Homo sapiens: one gene and its partners. The protein of the gene in region 2 purifies or fractionates together with the protein of the main gene of each other region. This does not show direct contact. Each region holds a gene or a part of one and is shown on either strand. Other genes may lie near its edges.

The links.
Region 1: the proteins of KLHL28 (region 2) and NUDCD3 purify together in Homo sapiens (affinity purification with mass spectrometry; 2 studies listed by BioGRID and IntAct, with this or other methods). This does not show direct contact.
Region 3: the proteins of KLHL28 (region 2) and AKAP11 purify together in Homo sapiens (affinity purification with mass spectrometry; 2 studies listed by BioGRID and IntAct, with this or other methods). This does not show direct contact.

Annotation. Positions count from the first base shown.
Region 1 is NC_000007.14:44,487,633-44,494,716, reverse strand, and holds the start of NUDCD3 (nudC domain-containing protein 3), read left to right. Parts: upstream 1-4,058; 5' UTR 4,059-4,116; coding exon 4,117-4,308; intron 4,309-7,084.
Region 2 is NC_000014.9:44,958,930-44,966,826, reverse strand, and holds the start of KLHL28 (kelch-like protein 28), read left to right. Parts: upstream 1-4,879; 5' UTR 4,880-4,981; exon of another isoform or gene 4,982-5,230; intron 5,231-5,341; exon of another isoform or gene 5,342-5,898; coding exon of another isoform or gene 5,899-5,940; intron 5,941-7,897. Other genes in the region: TOGARAM1 (TOG array regulator of axonemal microtubules protein 1), read right to left, coding at 2,360-4,405.
Region 3 is NC_000013.11:42,317,152-42,323,787, reverse strand, and holds the end of AKAP11 (A-kinase anchor protein 11), read right to left. Parts: intron 6,261-6,636; coding exon 6,100-6,260; intron 4,701-6,099; coding exon 4,560-4,700; 3' UTR 527-4,559; downstream 1-526. UniProt on the Homo sapiens protein: Binds to type II regulatory subunits of protein kinase A and anchors/targets them.

The sequences.
Region 1 (7,084 bases), on a different chromosome or scaffold from region 2:
ATGTAGATTTCTGTATGGACATAGTTTTCAAATAAGCTGGGTAAATACATAAGAGCATGATTGCTGGACTGTGTTATGACATTATGTTTAGCTTTCCATTCAATTTAAAAGATATTTTGGCCGGGCACGGTGGCTCACGCCTGTAATCCCAGCACTTTGGGAGGCTGAGGCGGGTGGATCACAAGGTCAGGAGATCGAGACCATCCTGTGAATGGTGAAACCCCGTCTCTACTAAAAATTCAAAAAATTAGCCGGGTGTGGTGGCGGGCACCTGTAGTCCCAGCTACTCGGGAGGCTGAGGCGGGAGAATGGCGTGAACCCAGGAGGCGGAGCTTGCAGTGAGCCGAGCTGAGACTGTGCCACTACACCCCAGCCTGGGCGACAGAGCGAGACTCTGTTTCAAAAAAAAAAAAAAGATATTTTATTTACTTTTTGAATAGGTAATGCATGTATATGGTATCAAATACAAAAGTAAGTTTTTCTCCTGTTTTATAGTGTTTCCCTCAATTTCCCTTCTCCAGATGCAGCGTCTGTTCCATTTCTTCCTTTAGGTGCTAAAGAAAATTATTCAAAACTTTGAATATAGCAAGAAGATGACTGCATGTGCTTCCAGTTATACTGAGGAATTATATAACAGGCTCACCCGAGATTCATTAATTCTCTAGGGCAGTGATTCTCAGAGTGTAGTATGTGGCCCTGGGGGGCCTCCAAGGTAAAAATAACAATACTATGATGTTATTTGCTTTTTTACCATGTTGACATTTGCAATGATGGTGCAAAAGCAATGGCAGGTAAAACTGCAAGTGTCTCAGCAGGAATCAAGGCAGGCCATTGTCCTAGCTTCCTGCTGTCACAAAGTACCATAGACTGGGTGGCTTAAACAACACATGTTTATTCTCTCACAGTCTTGGAGGCCAGAAATCCAAGACCAAGGTGTTGGTATCTGGTGAGAATTCTCTTCCTAGCTTGAAGCAATCTCACTGTGTCCTCACATGGCCTTTCTTCTGCATGTGTGCAGAGTGAGATCTCTAGTGTCTCCTTCTCCTCTTATGAGGATACCAGTTCCATTGGGTTAAGGTCCCACCCTTATAACCTCATTTAACCTTTAAGTATCTTTTAAAGGCCCTTCTAACCACCAATGTGACTCCAAATATAGTCCCATTGAGGACTGGGGCTTCAACATATGAATCTGGTGGGGGGCAGGCACATTCAGTCCATAACGGCACCAAACTCGACTAGTATGCACTGCCTTACACTTACAGGTTAAAAATGTTCAGTTTCACTTAAGAATGCTCCTGATAGCATTTAATTATTAATTTTATTAAAAGTTGTTTTATTAAAAGTTCTCCACTTGAGAACAAGTCTTTTTAATAGTGCATGATTAAAAGAGAAGTACACATAAGACATGTCTGCCTCATACTGAAGCAAAATGGTTGCACTGATGCAAAGCACTTGTGTGATTGAGTTGCCAATTGAACAAGTCACAGAGCATCATTTTTACTTGAATGACAGAATGAAGTGAGCCTGTCTCTTCAAGGAAAATAATTGATTGTATCTACTTCCAATAATAAAGTTCAAGTTTTTAAGCTAAAATTAGAATTCAAAAAACCCATATCCCGCTTCCATGAGCTTGAGTGCTTGTCAATAAAGACAGACTTCTCTGATGAGTTTAGTGGTAATTCTAACAAATGTTATTTTTTGATATTATATAATGAAATGATATTAGAAACCAAGATCTGGGGGCAAGATATGCTCGTTGCATAAAACGAGTGAACATTTGGAAGAGCTGCATAACACAGTGGACCAACATTTTCAAATGACTAATTAATACATGATGGTATAAAATCATGCATTTATTAACGATCCATTCAAAGTGAAAGACCAATCGATATTAATGTAACAGAGTATGAAAAGTCTATAGATACAGTTTTAGATTCCATATGGCAAGTAACCTTTAAGAAACTACCAGTTACAGGGCTGGGTGCAGTGGCTCACACCTATAATTCCAGCACTTTGGGAGGCTGAGAGGGGAGGATCGCTTGAGCCCATGAGTTTCAGACCAGCCTGAACAATGTAGGCCCAACCTCGTCTCTATAAAAATAATTTAAAAATTAGCCAGGCACAGTGGCATGTGCTTGTAGTTCCAGCTACTCAGAAGGCTGAGGCAGGAGGATTGCTTGAGTTCAAGAGTTCAAGGCTACAGTTAGTTATGATCACATCGTTACATTCCAGCCTGGGTGACAGAGGGAGACCCTGCCTCTTAAAAATAAAAAAAATAGAAACTATCGCTTGTAGAAGAATTTTGATGTCATTTTAAAGACAAATAGCCACATTTATTTGAAAAGACAAAATATTCCTCTCATTTGCAACTGTCTGTGTGAGGTTGCATGTTTTCATATACTTCAATGAAAACAACATAATGCAAATTATGTTGCAGTGAATGCAGATGTGAGAATCTTGTGGTCTTCTTTTTTTTTGTGGAGACGGAGTCTAGCTCTGTCGCCCAGGCTGGAATGCAGTGGTGTGATCTCGGCTCACTGCAACCTCTGCCTCCCGGGTTCAAGCGATTCTCCTGCCTCAGCCTCCAGAGGAGCTGGGATTACAGGCACCTGCCATCACGCCTAGCTAATTTTCGTATTTTTAGTAGAGACAGGGTTTCACTGTGTTGGCCAGGCTGGTCTCGAACTCCTGATCCTCCCGCCTCGGCCTCCCAAAGTGCTGGGATTACAAGCATGAGCTACTGTGCCGGCCAAATCTTGCTGTCTTCTAGTAGGCTCATTAAAGAGATTTGCAAAAATGTAAAACTATGTTACTCCTCTCACTGAACTTTTATTGCTTTGAAGAACATTATTTTTTGCATAAAAGTATGTTAACATGTAATGTGTTTTATGGTCATTTAAAAATGATTAAATAAATATTTAAACATTTTATGTTTTAATTTCTAATGTGGTAAATATTGATAAGCATAACCCATATCAACAAATGTTCTTTGGAATGTTCAACAAATTTTAAGAGGATTAATGGTCCCTAAATCAAGAGTTTCAGAACCACTGTTCTAGGGCAATTTACCTGAGTTGGATTTTATTTACAATTCATTAAAGCTTATACACTATGAAGACATGTTAACTTGCATGTTTTAATCTAGAAGAGGTGCAAATCATTTCTATACACTAGAAATGATAATCTATGGTTTTATCATCTTGTAGAACACCAGCCAGCTTTGTATCCAACCTAATCTTACTCTAATGCTTTGTCAAAATGTTTAATCTCCACTTCCTCAAAATGCTTTTGAACCAGCTTTACCATATCATTGTTAATTTGCTGAAGAAATCTTGGATATGTGTTCATGATATATTTGTATGAGTGTCATGCTTTTTACTTTTTTAAGATTATACTTTGACAGACACTAACAACATATGTATATATGACGTATATATGTATATACATACTATACACACACATACACGTACATATTTCACAACGATGGCATACGGATTCTCTATTCTGAATCTAGCTCTTTCCACTTAATATACGTTGAATGCACTCTTTATTTTCTTCGTCATCTTGACTTTCTTCTGATGCAACGCCCTGAGTTTAACTCACAGATCTGTTAATAAGAAACCCATACATCCCACATATACGCATTTTCCCGTCTCTGGCTCACTAACAAAAAGCTTACCCTAGCCCCATCTTTAACCATAGGTTCCAAATACCCAGGCTGGAATTCAACACAGAAATAAGAAAGGATCCACAGACAACGTGACAAAAATCCGAGCAGTCACGTGACACTGCACGCCCCATAATTTTTTTCCGCCCGCTTCAAACATGGCGGTCAAGCCCTCGCAGCGCAGCAGAAGCCACGGGCTTCCTTCCGCGTAGGAACCTCCTTGCTGCCCTTGTCGGGCTCTTTTGTCTAAGACCACCTCAAGGCAAAGCCCGTGGGGCAGCTGGGTCTGGGGAAAACAGCCCGGGGCCGCGGGGGCCGAACGAGCACGGACCGGAAGTTCCGCAGCCGCGCCGTCCGGCGGAGCCGTTGGCTGCGGACGCCGGAAGTGGCCAGTCGGCAGGTCTGAGGCGGCGCTGTGTGTGTGAAGCGTACCTAGGGCGGGAGGCGACATGGAGACAGGGGCGGCCGAGCTGTATGACCAGGCCCTTTTGGGCATCCTGCAGCACGTGGGCAACGTCCAGGATTTCCTGCGCGTTCTCTTTGGCTTCCTCTACCGCAAGACAGACTTCTATCGCTTGCTGCGCCACCCATCGGACCGCATGGGCTTCCCGCCCGGGGCCGCGCAGGCCTTGGTGCTGCAGGTGAGGCGGGCGGGCCTGCGGTCTGGGGAGCCGCCGCCCCCGGCCTGCCCTGACTCCTGGCGCCCGCTCCTCCAAGCTCTCCCAGCCTGTTTCCTCCTTTTCCTGGTGTCCTGGGGTTGAGCTTGTGAGAATGGCTTCAGTAATTTGAAGCGCGGATTGGATGTCAGCTTATTCCGCTGAGGTGTTCGCTCCGGACGTCCTGAGGTTTCAGAAGTAGTAAGCCGACTGTTAAGAGCCCTACTCAGCACCCGCCAGCGCGTACCCCTCACGGTGCTGGGGGCCGCTAGTCAGGGAGCGAAATCCATGCAGGCCAGACAGAAGGAAGGACATTTACAGCAACAGAAACGTGCATGCCCCAGAACTACCAAAGACTTGAGCTGGCGGGGATGACGGAGGCATTGTGTTGATCAATGGGTGTGGTCGCTTGTTTGAAATGTGACTTCCCAGGTCAAAGACTGTCAATGTAGTGCTTATTAAAATTTCTATTTGAGCTTAATTCCGTACCCTCCAGGTTAAGTTTATTGTATGTTGGAAACGCTGTCAATACTCATTCAGTGAAGTTGACTGGGCACTTTTGAATGTAGTGGTAAGCAACCTTTTGCTGAATGTAGTTTACACTCTTAGTTGCCGCAGGTGAGGGTGATACGGGTGTTTAAGTAATGGTTTCTCTCTCCTTGTGACACAGTTAAAGAGAGAAAACCCAGAAAGTAATAGAAAACTTTTTAAGGGCAATTATTTGATGGAGCCCATTGTAAAGAAAGGAAATAGAAATGATGGTTGAGAAGTGAAGTTTTTATAAGAGAGGTGGGACTTCTGATGAGATTAAAAGAAACTATTCAGCCAAGTATTAAGCCTATTTGTAGAAACCCAAGAAGATAGAAATGCTGATGATACCTCCCTCAGTTCTCTAGATGTTACAGTTTATAAAATGCTTCAGATGTTTCCTCCTGAAGTCTTAATGCATGCTGCAGGTTGGTAAGATGTTACTTTCCTCAGCAGAAGCCAAAGCTTTGAATGTCTTGGTAGCTACCAGGGTAATAGGGCCAAACGAGGAATGGGGTTCCATTAGGATTCAATTTCAGAACTTAAGGCTATTCCTCGTCCTTGTCAGTGGCATAAGTGCCATCTTAGTGATGAGAGAGCTGTTGGAGGTGGCCTTTAGCAGGATCTTATGGCAGGTTAATGAAGTCTTGCCATTTGATCTTCAGTGTCTCTGTGAAACAGATAAGTTTCAAGTTTACGTACCAATTCAGCAAGGTTAAGTGATTTGACCAAGAACACACAGCCAGTTCACCGTAGAGCTGAAACTAAAAATTTCATTTTGTGGATTCCAAATCTTCCTGTTCTGTTGTTTAACCATTCCATAGTAGGATGAGAACACTTTTGTCTAGATTGATTGTAGTTTGCAGAAAGATGTGGAGGAGAAAGGAGTATATACTGAGTAATATGTATAGTATCAGATGTTTTATATTCTGGGGTCGTTATCTTATTTAACCCTTAATATAACCTGAGAGGTTGGTCTTTGTTTCACAGATGAACTGACAGAGCACTCATTAACCTGGTAACTCATTTACCTGGTAACACCTCTTACAAGACACTTCCATAGGTTAGGATTTGGTGACCAGTCTAATGAAGTAGTGGAGATGGGGAGCAGGGATGGAGGAAGGGGAGGGATGGGTCAAAGATGATCCAAGGTTTCAACTTGGGTGACTGGAATAGTGATAATGCGTTAACTGAACTGTCACCTGGGTTTAGGGGAAAAAGTTCAGTTTTAGACAGGTTGAACTTGAAGTTGCAGGTAGGAGTCCCTGCCCATAGGCTATTGGAATTACTGGACTAGATCTTTTGGGAGCTAGAGCAACTGGAGTGGTCCGAGGGAGAGAGAAGAGCCAAAGGTGAAGAACAGGCCTTGGGGAATAATCTTGGTGGAGAGCAATAAGTTTCACAGAAACCAAGGGGACAACAGTCTCCAGCAGATGCTTAAGAGAGGTGTCATGTTTTCTGGAAGTGGTTCTCAACCATCAGCATCGCTTAAGGAACTTTTTTCTTTCTTTTTTTTTTTTTTTTTTTCCTGGAGATGGAGTCTCACTCTGTCGCCCAGGCTGGAGTGCAGTGGCATGATCTCAGCTCACTGCAACCTCCGCCTCCTGGGTTCAAGCAATTCTCCTGCCTCAGCCTCTCGAGTAGCTGGGACTGCAGGTGTGCGCCACCACGCCCGGCTGATTTTTGTATTTTTAGTAGAGATGGGGTTTCATCATGTTGGCGAGACTGGTCTCAAACTCCTGACCTTGTGTTCTGCCTGCCTCGGCCTCCTAAAGTGCTAGGATTACAGGTGTGAGCCACTGCGCCTGGCCAAGGAACTTTTAAAAGCACATATTCCTGGATATTTTGGTTGGGTAGATCAGGGTGAATCCTGGGAACCTGTTCTTTTTTTTATTTTTTTATTTTTTATTTTTGAGATGGAGTCTCATTCTGTTGTCCAGGCTGGAGTGCAGTGGCGCAATCTTGGCTCACTGCACCTCCTCCTCCCAGGTTCAAGTGATTCTCCTGCCTCAGCCTCCCGAGTAGCTGGGTTTACAGGCATGTACCACCATGCCTAGAGAATTTTTGTATTTTTAGTAGTAGAAATGGGGTTTCACCGTGTTGGCCAGGCTGGTCTTGAACTCCTGACCTCAGGTGATCACCCGCCTCAGCCTCCCAAAGTGCTGGGATTACAGACATGAGCTACTGCACCTGGCTGGAACCTGTTCTTTTATCCACAAAAGCTCATTTGACA
Region 2 (7,897 bases):
TGCACCACCATGCCTGGCTAAGTTTTTTTATTTTTGTAGAGATGGGGATCTCACTATGTTGCCCAGGCTGGTCTCGAACTCCTGGCCTCAAGCAATCGTCCAAATGTTATGTTAAGGAAATAATCAAAGACTAAAGAACAGTCATGTTAAAAGGACACAGGAGCCAGCCACTAGTTAAATTTGGGACAATTTTATCATGAAAAAGTTAAAAAAAATTTAGTAACAAAAAATAATATGTAATTATTACACATACAAGAAAAAAAGAATTGCAGGTAGTAAACAGAGAAGAAATGTCACAATTTTTTAAAATTACTCTTTTTGTAATTAATTTATTTTAGTATTATTATTATTTTTGAGATGCAGTCTTGCTCTGTTGCCTAGGCTGGGGTACAGTGGTGTGATCTCAGCTCACTGCAACCTCTGCTTCCTGGGTTCAAGTGATTCTTTTGCCTCAGCCTCCCGAGTAGCTGAGATTACAGGTGTGTGCCACCACACCCAGCTAATTTTTGTATTTTTAGTAGAGACGGGGGTTTCACCATGTTGGCCAGGCTGGTCTCCAACTCCTGACCTCAGGTTATCTGCCTGCCTCAGCCTCCCAAAGTGCTGGCATTACAGGTGTGAGCCACCCTGCCTGGCCTTTGTAATTTAAAAATTACAATTTGGGCTGGGTATGGTGGCTCACGCCTGTAATCCCAGCACTTTGGGATGCCGAGGCGGGTGGGTCAGGAGTTTGAGACAGGCCTGGCCAACATGGTGAAACCCTGTCTCTACTAAAAATACAAAAATTAGCTGGGCGTGGTGGTGGGAGCCTGTAATCTCAGCTACTCAGGACACTGAGGTGGGAGAATCGTTTGACCCTGGGAGACAGAGGTTGCAGTGAGCTGAGATTGCGCCATTGCGCTCCAGCCTGGGCAACAGGGCGAGACTCCATCTCAAAAAAAAAAAAAAAAAAAAAAATTACTATTTGTAAGCCCCCAGTGTAATAAATGATACAGGTAAAGACCATTGGTGGATGCTAAACACAGTGGGTGAAAAGTTGTCGGGGTATTCTTAGGGTCTCAAAGTATCACTGTACTGATTATATGCTAATTCTAAAGAGGAAAATATACCTTTACAATGGAGAGATCTGGCTATTACCACCTTATCCAAACAGTAAAATTAAGCATCACCAGTGATGGGACAGCCTGATATCATTTGCCTCATAATGTAATGTACTGTGAAGTTCACACTACTTATCTTCTACTTAATATATATGTATCTCCTATGTAATATTTTCCTAAAAATATTTATTTTGAATCTAATCAAGTAAACATATAAATGTAAAACTTGGGACATTCTACAAAACTACCCCAAACTCTTTTTATAAAAGGCCAATGCCATGAAAAAACAAAGAAACAAACAAGTAGGATATTATTCTAGATAAAATTACAAGGGACATTAACCACATGAACCCTGACTAGATCCTGGATGATAAAAGTAAAACAAGAAATATAAAACACTTTTGGAGACAATTTGGGAAATTTAAATACAGGCTGTCTGTTACATATTATTGAATTACTACTGATAGTCTTAGGTGCAATAATGATTTATGGTTATAAAAGAAGAATGTCATTCTTAGGAGATATATGCCGAGATATTTAGGAGTGAAATCTCAAGATATCCACAATTTACTTTCAAATGGTTCAGCAAATATGGAGGAAATATGTCAAGATGTTACAACTGGTAAATATAGATGAAGTATATGGGTATTCATTGTACTCTTACCTATAGATTTGGAATTTTTTAAATAAAAGCTTTGGGGGGAAAATCTCAGTTCAAATGTTGTATCTTCTGTGGAGGCTTTTTCTTTTTCCTTTTTTTTTTTTTTTTTTTTTTACTTTTCTAGTGGAATTAGTTTTTCTGTCTTCAGTATTCCTGCAGGACTCTTTATATTTCTACTTTAGCACTTAACGAATTTGTTAACTGCTAATTCCCAGGTCTGACCTTTTTCCTATACTGTGTGAAACTGGCCTCATCTTCATTCCCAGAATTTAGCTCTTTATCTGGCACGTACTAGGTATTCAATGTTTGTTGTATGAATGAGATAAACTGACATGCTACAGTAACTAAAACTGAATCTTGGTATTGTCTATATCACATGTGTCTCAAATTTAATTAAATCTATCAAGCAGGAAGCCTATTAAATGGTCCTTTGTGATCTGTACCATTATAATGAGTACCAACATTCAGATGGATTTAAAATCAATTTAAAACAAAGCATAACATGTTTCCCTCAAGCAGGCTGACCCTTAAGTCATCACGGGCATATTTTCATTTAAATTCTTCACACTTTCGACTCAAGAAAATTAGAGAAGCATACCTGCTCTATATCCTTGGAAGTGGAGGTCTGGTTTTCTCCCATGATTCCAGGTTGCTCATTTTCCCATGGTAATTTATTTTTTCCTTTTCCTGCACTTAATACCCTTCGGGTACAGATAGTTGGGCTGTAAGATCCATAAATGTGCATGCTATCCCTCACGTGGTCACCACAGTGACAGTGTGCACTCTGAGTTCTGTTACCAGCCAAAAGCCAGTCCGTATCTGCTCCATGTGCCAAATGGTTTGACCTACCCCCGGCAGAAGATGGCATCAGTACTGCATATTCCACAAATCCCTGCTCTGTGAGCCTTGGTAAGGTTTTCCTAGCCAATCTGGCCTGCACAGCATTCATCACTCCATCTCCATTATCTTGCAGTTCAACTGTATCCACAGCTTTAAAAAGGATGCTGGTTTTACCTGAGCCCATTGATGATGCCAATACGGCAAAAGCTTCTAAAGCTGCTTGGCGTACCCTGCGTTTGCTATCTACAAGAGCTGGGGCAAGATCAAAGGACAGTTTGGGCAAGTCAAAATCCTCACTAGGATAGGTCAGCAGGGAGCAGATGCAAATGTTCACCACCTCCTCTCTCACTCTGGAATGCTTATGTTTGAGATGTTCCAGGAGTAAACAAAGCACCTGCTGAGGTCCTACTTCCTTCATTAGCTTGAGGAAGATTTTCATGTATTCTTGTTTGATCACCAACTTGTTGTCCGCCAGCACTTTGACAGAAGCTGCTATAACTGGTCCCAAGAACTGCTGTACCTGCTCTCCAAGGCGAATAACCAGTAAATGCAGGACTTCAAGTGTGCCATGCACCACTTTGAAGTTAGAATCGTCTAACAAATTATATAGCAAACTAATGAAGCCAACAAGACTAGAATGAGGAGTAGAACTAGGGTTAAATTTTCCCAGCACCTGCTTTAGTTCTTCGACGGCCTGGGTCCGGTTCTTATAGTCTTCCTGATCCAATAATCGTGAATGCAGCTCCTGAGGAATAATCCCAAATTTAAGATTGCTGTTGGAAAGAGTCACTGCACAGGGAAGGGGATCTTCAGGAAATCCAGAGGCTTCAAGTTCCAAATAATAAGGAACCTGACTTCCAAACTGGGACTCCAGGCGGCGATTGTAGTGTCTCCTCAGGGCAGAGGGCAGACGAGAAATGTAAGATTGAAACCTGTCTTGGCCAAGTCGCTCCCCAATTTGTTGAAGTGCGGAGAAAGCTGTCTCAGATTCTTCTTCTGTCTCCTGATCACCAAGCTTTCGGGCTAGGGATATTATCACCTCGGTGAGATCCAGACCAAGCAACAAGTCCTCAGTAGTAAGCAAGATGGGAAGCAGTAGTGCTGTGGAAGCTCTAAGTCGGGCATCGGTACTTTCCAGTCCTTGTTGTATAAGCGTTCTCAGCACCTCTCCAGGACTACGTTTCAGACATATATGAAGGATCTGCAGCGCATCTTTCCGCAGGGCTGGATTCTCTTCCCGTAACGAGACAACTAGTTGAGGCAAAAGTGCTAAGCTAAAGGCCTCTTCAAGCTGGCCTGCCTCCCCCTGACCCCGGAGAACGTCCGAGAGAAGTTGCAAGCAGAGCCGCTTCTCATCACTACCTCCTTCCACAAGCACTCGGCCCAGTGCCCGATACAAAGCTTCCTTGCGTCGGGGGAAGCCAAGTCGACCGCCCCGCCGCGGCAAAGCAGCTTGCAAAGCCTGGAAGGCCTCAGAAGGATCCCGGGCAGTGCGGAGGAGTTGAAGGAGCCGAGTGTCCTCTTCATCTCCCCCTGACAAACCGCCTCCAGACTCAGACCAGCTGCTTGAGACTGCCTCCGAGGGCATCAAGAGGGCCGAGGCCAGAGGCGAAGTTGTAGTGGGGCAGGAACCGTGGTCCCCCGCAGCTCCACGGAAGTAGTAGTTTTTCTCTCCTCTCATAATGCCCCCAACTCGACTATCATCGGTCTCTGGGGCGGAAGGACGACTGCGGCTCTGGAGCCGATAGGTAGAGAGGACTGGAAAGGGCGGCAGCAGAAGCAGCGCGGAGGGGGCAGCCGCCATGCAGGGTTGTCAGGTGGTGGTGGTTGGAAGAAACCATTGCCGTCTCCAAAGGGCTCGATGGAGCCCAGACTTCCAGATCCTCTCCAAGCCCCAAGCTGCAGAAGAGGCAAAAGAACAGCTTCAGCCTGCCGCCAGGCCGCCCCCAACTCCGGGAGGCAGCCTCTGGCAAAATGGCCCCCGTCTGAGCCCTAGACCCCACAGCTGCCACCGGGCGTAACCAAGGGCACCACGTGACCAAACCGATTGCTTCCATGGTGATGTACCCAGCGCGGACCTCTTGACCCGGAAATCCACTTGCCGTGATGAATGCTGGGTTATGTAGTCCACGTCAGGTGTTGAGACTAGGCCAAAGTCTCCTGGAAGAGGAAGTCAGAACGTTGTAAACGCAGCTACAGCGGAGAAGGGAGGAGGGGTGAAGCCATTTGACGGATGTGACGCTTTCCTTGCTCTGGGCGGAAGTTGCCCGCCCCACCCGTAAGAGTTAGGGTTTGACCGGAGCTAGTGAGGATCCAGCCCAGGCTCCAGTTGTCCGCGGTTCCTCCTCCTGTCGCTGCCCGTGTGATTACTGAGACTCAGGTATTTTCCTTTTGCTGTCCTCCAGCGGTGCAGGCTTTGGCAGTGTTTTGCCCGAATGCCACTGGTGCTAGAGTAAGAGGCAAAGGACTGAGCGGAGCAGGTGGAAAGAGAGGCGACATCTTCTTGTGCAGGGCTCGTCACCCTTGTAAACGCGTTACTCTCTACCACCCTGAGTAACTGCGATCCTTTCCTCTTGCCATCTGCTTATCAGGACAGAAGATCTGGACCACGGCCAAGCTCACAAATCGGGTATTTTTTTTCAATTCCTGGTCTTTGGGGCCTTTATTCGCCTCCCCCTTCTCCTTTTGTCGACTTCTCTTAACCCTCCGGCCGCAGAGGGTTAATTTTTTTTTGTTTTTGTTTGTTTGTTTTTGGCAACGTTTCCTTACCCTCATCACTTTGCGTTTTCTTTACAACGTACATAATATGGAAATAGGTCTGTTTTTTTCCCCCTGTAGCTAACCGCCTCTCCCTTAGACGTTATCAAAATCTTTCCTTCTAATGCAGTTCCTCTGTGGGACTCTCCCCTAACCTCCGCCCCCTCCGTCTGCCGCCCTAGCCTCCCTGCAGGATCCTCAAGCGTCTCTGCAGCCTTTCAGTCTCCTAGAGACAGAGATTGCGAAGACAATTTCACTTGCGGTGGAAGTTCTTGGCATCATGGTTCTAAGAGAATTCTGCCTTGTGGATTTAGGAATGATAGTAGACATTTATTTATTTTAGGCGAACTGAGAATTTTGTGTGCATTTTCTCCTCATAAGTGATACTTAAACGGACACAGTGGAAGAGCTGGAGTGTCTAGTGTGAGCCTGAATGCTTTGGAGTGTGGAAGAGATATTTTTTTTTTTTGAAGGAATAATACTATTACTTTTGAATGACTCGTGCGAAAAGTCTAAGTTATCATTTGAAGACCCAAATTTATGCACTTCAAATGCAAGTATTCCTACCCTGCTCTGTACCAGGTGGGATTTCTCTTAAATACTTTTTAAAGTCTTGGAATAAATGAGTCACATATGCCAAACAGCTTTATAAATAATGCTCCCAGCTGATGCAAGTGCAAAAATAATTTCTGGATTTTTGCCTTAAAGTACGATTTGAATATCAGTTTTGTTTTGTTTTGTTTTTGGGGGGGTGGGGGTGGGGAATAGACTATAATGTAAATGAGGCTGTGTAAATATACATCCTATGTTTTGGTTTAAATTCTAGGCTGTTACTTTGGTTTTAATGAGCCATTTTCGTGTTTAAATGAATCTGCCTAAATTAGGTTTAGCTAGCATGTTTCATTTTAGGGACAGGTTAAAGACAGGGAGGTGAAAAACAAGAAATGATTGTAGCAGTTGTCAATGAGAAAGTGTCTGGTTCTCACAGTTCCAACCTAAGAAGCTCAAATGTGTAGACTTCTAGTCATGTATTGCCCAGACTTGAGGAACCCAGTTCAAACTAACCTAGACAATGATGTACACATTACAGTGCCAGTTTATGTTGGATCAGAATTTTCAAGTTGAAAATCCAGTGCACTCTTTCTTGTATCCAAGAACTTGGGAAGCCAAGTTAATAACTAGAGGTTGTGTGGTAATCATGGAATCACAGAAAAGGAACTTCGAAAGTCTTAAATGAGAGACGTGGATACTTAAGCAGTTATCATGCCCTTTTCCTGGGAACAAAGCAAGATGAGTCTTCCTTTTGATTCTTGTTTTTTTAGATCCCTGTGGATCACTATACATTACAGATTGCAATTTATTTTTTATCTGTTACATTTTGTCTCTTTGATTGAAGACTTAGAAGAGGCATTAGTCTCCATAGTGGATATTTAGGAAATGGGACTTCATCAGCATCACGTCTTACTGATTATCTTTTAGAGTTATTTTGTGGAACATAAATCTCATTCATTGAGTGTGTATTCTTTTTATTACGAAGCAGATTTTTTTTAATCTTTGGAAATCTAGGAATTTCTCGTATATTGACTTAAAAAGCCTTTTGTATTTAATCATATATAGAGAGAGTACAAATTTGTAATCAATTTTTAGATAGTAGAATACACTATTAGGTGTTTTATTAATAGTACACCTCAGAAAGTTAAAAGGAAGTGGTTAAGGATACATTGAAAATTGCAAATTCAGCTAAAACAAGTTTAAAATTTCAATAATTTCAAGAATGTAGTTAAATTAGTGAATTATAGGAATGTGTGTGCTACATATGTTAATTTTTTTAGCTGAACTTAAGGGTAAACACAATTGCCCTAAAAACTTACTTTATTTCCAGAATCAGAGATAACACATTAGTTCCCTGGGCGAATCACTATGATTTTTCTGTGTTCTTACTCAAATTTTACAGACATCCAGGAATATTGAACGTCAGTGTGAATTCTGTAAACTATTAAGAATTTTGTGTAGTTTGAGAAGTTATTGTGAAGAAATGCTATGCAAATGAAAGTTGCTATTAATATTAACAAACAATCATAATAATACCATGTTTTGAGTATTTGCTATGTGCCATGCACCATGCTAGGTACTTAGTAAATATTAACTCATTTAATCCTCACAAGAATTTTTTGAGGTTACATCTTCTACATTTGGACTATGGAACATTTTATGGGTGTTTCCACAAAAGAGTAATTGGACAGAGGAAGAAAGTAAAACTCACATTTGCTTAGAGCTTGGAGAAGGTTTTGGTGGAGGTCACTGTTGAAACTTTAGGATAAAATTAGATTTTTTCCATTATTATTCATTTATTATATATCATTTGATTATATATTTTTTAATTTATTATTTTTTCTTTCAATCCTTGGTTGAAGATTATATATATTTTAATCTATCCTTTTTGGATTTCTATTCAAAATATTTTTAGTTTCTTGTTTGAGGTAACACTTTAATAAGTTAAGAAATTATGAGCTTATTTTATACAGGATTGAATCAGTTT
Region 3 (6,636 bases), on a different chromosome or scaffold from region 2:
GTGGGGTGTTGACACCGAAGGAGGCTGGGCAAAGAGGGTATACGGGAGCTCTGTATTTTCTGCTCAATTTTGCTGTGCATCTAAATAAAAGTGCTCTAAAAATGGTCTATTTAAAAGGAAAAAAATTCTTAAGACAAAGTCAGATCCATTAGTAATTAAAAAAAAAAAAACCCAGCAGCTTTTAAGTTATCTTGTGTACATGGTTTAACAGAGGTATGGTCTTATTATGGAAAGAGTGTTCAAACCAGGCCAGAAGAATTTCATAGCCATGTTCATATTCAAGGCAACCATAATATTCTACTTTGCAAAAACAGGTTGGGCAACCAGCCTTTTAAGTCACTATGTCTGCATTTGGGGTATCTATAAGTAGGTAGAATCTAGTGTCCAATTGGAAATATTTCTAACTTCTCTTGTTCTCAAAACCATGATCTAGCACTTCAGTCCTCTTATGTGGTCTTCTGTCATAGCAGTCCCACTCAGTACAGAGCAGTTAATGAGATATTATAGAATGAAAACCAAGACCAGGTATTTCTTAAATTTATTGAAGAACTCTTAGCTGGGAGAAGAAAGATCACAGGCTTAAACAATTGTAAGATAAAAGAACAATTAATTGCAAATAATTACAAAAGTAATTTCTGAAATTTTTTGAGCCACTGCTGAAACAAAACTTTAGTGCATCTCAAAGTTCGTATTTTGTTAAGTGAACATATTAAATTACTGAAAAGCAAAAAAGAGTTACTGTTACACAGTACAAGATCTTAATATAGTAACTGAGCACAGCCAAATAAACAGCTATAATTATTCCAAGCTGCTTTTGCTATGTATCTGGTATATTAAACAAGAAAGTGGATTACTTTTAACACTGCACAAGTAACCAAAGGTAGCAAATCCAGCAATATTAAAACCGGATATTAAATAGTATTCAAACATTACAACAAAAACAAAATAAGAACTTCTAGAACTAGAACTCTACCCTATGAAAGGAATGTACACAGATGGTTAAAAAAAAACCAATAAATAAATAAAGTGACAAGAGTGACTAATTCTGTATCCACATCTTCAGAGCAGGAATACAGTAAATGAGTAAATGCTTAGAGGAGTCTTGCTGAAAATGAGAAAAAATGCATCTCACTTTAGTATAATTTTTCTAAATTCTCACTGAAGCTCTAATTCTCTTGTGCTGGTGACAGGTGGACAGGGTTTTTAAATGCAAAGTATTCTCCCTACACCCTGAGTATGGATGCATCAGTTGTTTAAAATTCTGTGGAAAGTTTCCTTAGAAAAACATAAAATTTAAAGTGATATACTGATGGGAAATTGAATATATTAATTGTGGAAGAATATCAGCTAACTAATTAACTAAGTAGACATTTAAATCTGGACTCTGTTGAAGAATCAAGGTTAAACTCTGCATTATGTGCACTAATGTCAGCCATCTAATATCAAAGTCAGATAAGTAAACTATCTTTCACTTTATACATAGTGCATTTAGTAAATAAATTCTCTTACCAGCAACATAAAGCCCTTGTTGGAGCAAAATTAAAGTATTAAGAATTGAATTAACTTACAACAAATATCTGAAGGGTAAGTGGAACATTTTTCAAAGTATAAAGATGTTATCACATATATTCACCATGAATCCTCTTAAAGGTTTTATAACACCATTAAATTATATCAAATATCCAACAGATATTGTCATTTTCTTCTGTGATTTATAAAGGAAACATTCCTTTTGTACAAATCAGAAGTATCTTAAAAATCAACCTTAACACCAAAATATACATGTAATTTTAACTTGGTTTAGGAAAACATGAAAGAACTGTCACATTTTGGTGTGAACAAGGTTCTGAAAACCCCCTATCAGAGGTCTCATTCACTTTTTTCCACATATCACTTGAAGGTTTTGAAACTGGTAAAAACAGAATTCAGCTCGATGTACATCAAAACTTTAACAGTTCTGAAAAAGACGTATTTCGTAAGGGCCAAAATGTACAGCACAGCAATATTACAATGTTACAGTATAAATATGTCAAGCCAATTTGTAATAAAATAAGACAGTTGTCTTCAAAAGAGCTGTTTGACTATAGAGCAACCAAATAGATCTAGAACATCTTTGGAAAAACCACAAAGTGCCTTTACAGAAAGTTAAGTTTAGACTACACTTAATTAAAAGATAATACTCTAAACTCAAAATTATTTTCTCTATATGAGGAATTTTGACACTTGTTTTCACACCTGCCAATATTCAATATTTTTAACTCACACTTCTTTTCATACATCTGCCAATATTTAATATTTTATTCTATGCCCCTGCACTGAATTGATGTAAGTGTGAAGTTCCACTATTATTATTACCACACATGCTAATACCTAATAACTGGTCTGTCATTATGTAGTGGTTAAATAAGCAAATGCTGAACTCAGCACAGCTCTAGCAAAATGCAAAGGAAATAAGAAAAGCCTCACCTCAGAATGATTACACCATAAACAGAAATAAACATTTTCAAACACAAAGTTTCACAAAATAATATATCATCACTTTAAAAGAAATTCAGAACTCTATTTTGCTGTTGATCAAACTTGTGCATACACTCAAGTTACTAAACACAATTTGATAGTTAGATACTTGTAAAAATGCATTCTAAACTTAATAATCAATTAATTCATAATTAACAAGAGCAAACATTCCTAGTCCTAACATTTAAAAAAACCCAGTCCAGTGCTGCCACATCTCAAGTTCTGAAAAGCTAAAGGCAGGAACAATTCTGGTTATACAATTCCTGCATTTCTCCACCTTAAAAAATACTTGAAGAAACTTTAGGAAACTTTATATTAAGGCTTGCTGTATTTCTGTATCTTAAATTGAGAAAAATCAAAACCTACGATGTAACCTCGAATTATTTAAATAGCTTTTGGCATTTTTCTTGAAAAGCAAATTTGAATCTTTCACTATAAAACATTTCTATACCACAATTACTAATTCACATTAATGTGTAAGTGCCCTCATTTCCTATTCCCTGGCAGGCGCTATGTCTTCTTTCTACGTTTTGTGCAGCTTTCAGAACAGTCAGTGCTCAGAAAAAATGAAAACGTAATGGAGCAAAATCAAAGTCCCCAAAAAAAGTGATTTATCCTAGATTACAAAATCCAGTAGTGGAAGAACCAACATTTACACACCCAAATACACACACACCCACACATACACAGGACACAGCGAGAGATGAGAGAGAGTGGGGGGTGGGGGAGGTGAGAGACAGTGGGAGGAGGGGGGAGGGGGAAGAGAGTGGGAGGAGGGGAGAGAGAGTTGCAGGGAGGGAAGAGAGAGACAAAAGCAAGACACAACCTTTGTCCTCTATTCATGTCAACTTGCAGTTTCTGGACACAAACTAGTAGGAAATGTAGAGCCCAGAAAGATCGTGTCAGAGAACTTGACGAGACAGTGTAGATATAGTTTATCTGGGTGGGGCGGGGTGGGGGGAAATCCCAATTTTTCTAAAACAAACAAACAAACAAACAAAAAAAACACCACATTCTTGGTAGAGGTTTTTTCAAAAATCCAACAATAAAAACTACTGGGCTTCTCTAAATGCATTTCCATATTAACATTAATTTTTAAAATTTCAACATGTTTTACAATTTAAGTTTTCACTTGTAAGATAAGTTGGGAACCCAAAATTGTCAAAAAAAATTTTAATTATTGTCAATAAAAATTCTTACTGCACAATCTTTATAGGCGTTTTATTTTAAAGCACCTTTTTAAATTTTAACAGTGGGTTTCTAAAAAGAAAACAGTAAAATAAAAGAGGGAACAAACTGGCAAGGTTAAAGTACTCCCTTACACACACACACACACACACACACACACACACACACACACACACCTTTCATGCCAGAATGACTGGCAGCATTGGCAAATAATGTCAATGAAAGGATGGGGGAAACTATCACTTATAGTGTTTATAGAAACCTAAAATACTAATGTTTCTGCTAAGAAATTAAATAGTTTGGGGAAATCAAAAAGCTACCAATAGCTGATCTATGAAATATGAAAATGAAACTGATTTTTAAAAACAGGAAAGGCCAAAAATCTACTAGAAATTTTTAAAAATCAGCCTCAATTTTATTTTCTGATGTCAGACTAGTTATTAATTAGATACCATTTGTTTGCAAAGGAGCAAAATTATAACTCTATCACTGGAACCTATCCTCAGCCACTTCAGTGCAGTTTCTAGCAGCACTATTTGGATACAAAAAGAATGTGGTCAGACAATGCCCCTGAAAACCCCCTGGTTAGACCTTCCTTCAAATACATGTTCTTAGGGTCTTGACACACTACACATGTGTATAGAAGAATAAATGAAGGTAGTATTTTGACAGATTACAAAAGTATGAACTATATACACCGAGTGATAACACAAAGCGCTCAGAAAGCTATATTTACTTGCCTCCCAACTGACTTACGATGTTAATATTCACTATTCAAATTTTATCCTAAACATCTTTATTGGCTTGTTCCCCTCCCCAAACAAATACTAAAATATACTGGTTTGGGGTTTGCTCTATGCATTTTCCAAGAGCCAATCAAACAGCGACTTGCATCTCTCCTCACTGGAAGCTTTTTCCATCACTTCATAGTATTGAAGCACAGCCTGCAGGAGGTCTCCCACTTTCCATCCTTTCTCTTGTAATTGTTTTGAAAGCTAAGAAAGAAAGATGTGTCAAACATTAACCAAAAACAATTTTATAACAAAGCTTTTATTTTTATTTTCAATATTAGCTGAAACTTAAGAATCCTGCTGTTTACAATTAAATACCGTTTCCTAGTTATAACAAGGTCTTCCCCTCTAAACCGCTACCCCTTTACCCAAATTAAACATTTTCCCTTCTTCCCCTTTATAAACACATCTCCTCCAGAGAATGACACTTTGGGATCGCTGGAGACAGAGCTCCACAAACCTCACCAAGCAAATAGTCTGCATGGACATGCAGAGGCTGAGTTTCTACAGGAAATTCTTCACCTAACTAAATACAACTGCCACACCCTCAATTAGGACATAAAATAATAAAGACAACGTCAAACTCAATAAAAGGATGTGGATTTTCCTTCCACAACATATAGTGTGGCATTTTTCTGGAATACACACTCTAGCCTCAATGGAAACATGGCTTTCTAAGTTAAAGAATGTTAATGTTTCAACAACAAAACAACAAATAAATAAATAAATAAATACAGGTTTAAATAAATCCTGTTGTCACCACTCACGACATGCTTTTGTTCATTTCTTTTTCTACTAAGTTCTGTAAAAGCTCTTAAGTTTTGAAAGATCTGTAAGTTAAATTCTGAAAAACTACTTTAATTTTGTGTAACATATATATGCTTAACCTTTTTAAAAACAGCTTTATTGAGATAAAACTCACATAACATACAATTCACCCAAAGTGTCCTAGTCAATGGTTTTTAGTATGTTCTCCAAGTTGAATGCAACCAACACCACAATTCGAATATTTCTACCACCCCAAAAGGAAAGTTCTGATAAAGAAAATTATGGAACAAAAACCTTAAGACTGTAAACTGAAAATCTTGACTAATAAGGTACTTGGCACATAGTAAGCATCTTGTTTAAACTTTTATCGGCTTTTAATTATGACAGCTGCTCATACAAATGAAACTGGATTATCAGAGAAACAGATATATTAATCATTAGGTACAATTACAAATCAATTAAATACAGAGAATAATTCAATTTTTTCATAGGAACACACACAATGCTTATTAATAGCATCTACCTTTGAGAGCTTAGTGTTATGCCAGGCATTAGACCAAGCATTTTTTTTAACATTATATTTAATCCTCATAAACCCCTGTAAGGTAGATTCTATATTCATTTGCATAGTGCAGTTAGGGGCAATGAGACAGACTGGTGAACCTGCCTCTGGTTATACTGCTAGAAAGTGGCAGAGCTGATGTCTGAACCCAAACTGTTGGACACTACAGCCTAAGAATTTAACCATCACCAGGCATCTTGTTAGACCAATCACATGACAAGAACATCATATACTGTTAAATGTATCCTCACACTCTGTAAGGTAGGTACTTACTAGCATAAACTCCTTATTTGCAGAGTCATGAAAATAAAGTTCTGCAACTTCAGCCTCAGAGGCAATGAGCCACTGAAGAATAATCCTTAGCTGGGGGTCTACCGTGCATGGCTCCATGTCAATATTCGTAATTAGCAGTGTCTTTCCATCTTGCCCCAAACCTAATATTTAAATGTAAACAATATAAAGTAAAACTCATCAATTTAACTCTCAATACTCTGGTTGTCAAGTAGATACAAATATTTTCTGGTTCTTAGGATTCTAATGAATGGTGAAAAAAATATCCATCTTTTTCTAACCACACCATAACCTCAACTAAAACTTCTAAAGGGCAAAATAATGTAAAACAAAGGAATAACTTTGATCATTTATTGATTGCAAAAATATAAAACATCATTTTAACATACTGAATTCAAGTTCTATAAATGCCATAATTTGATATAAATTATGACCAGTGGGTTAGAGAGAAAATAAAACTATAAAGCTATCATTACAATAAAAATAAAAATGAGGCTGGGCATGGTGGCTCAGGCCTGT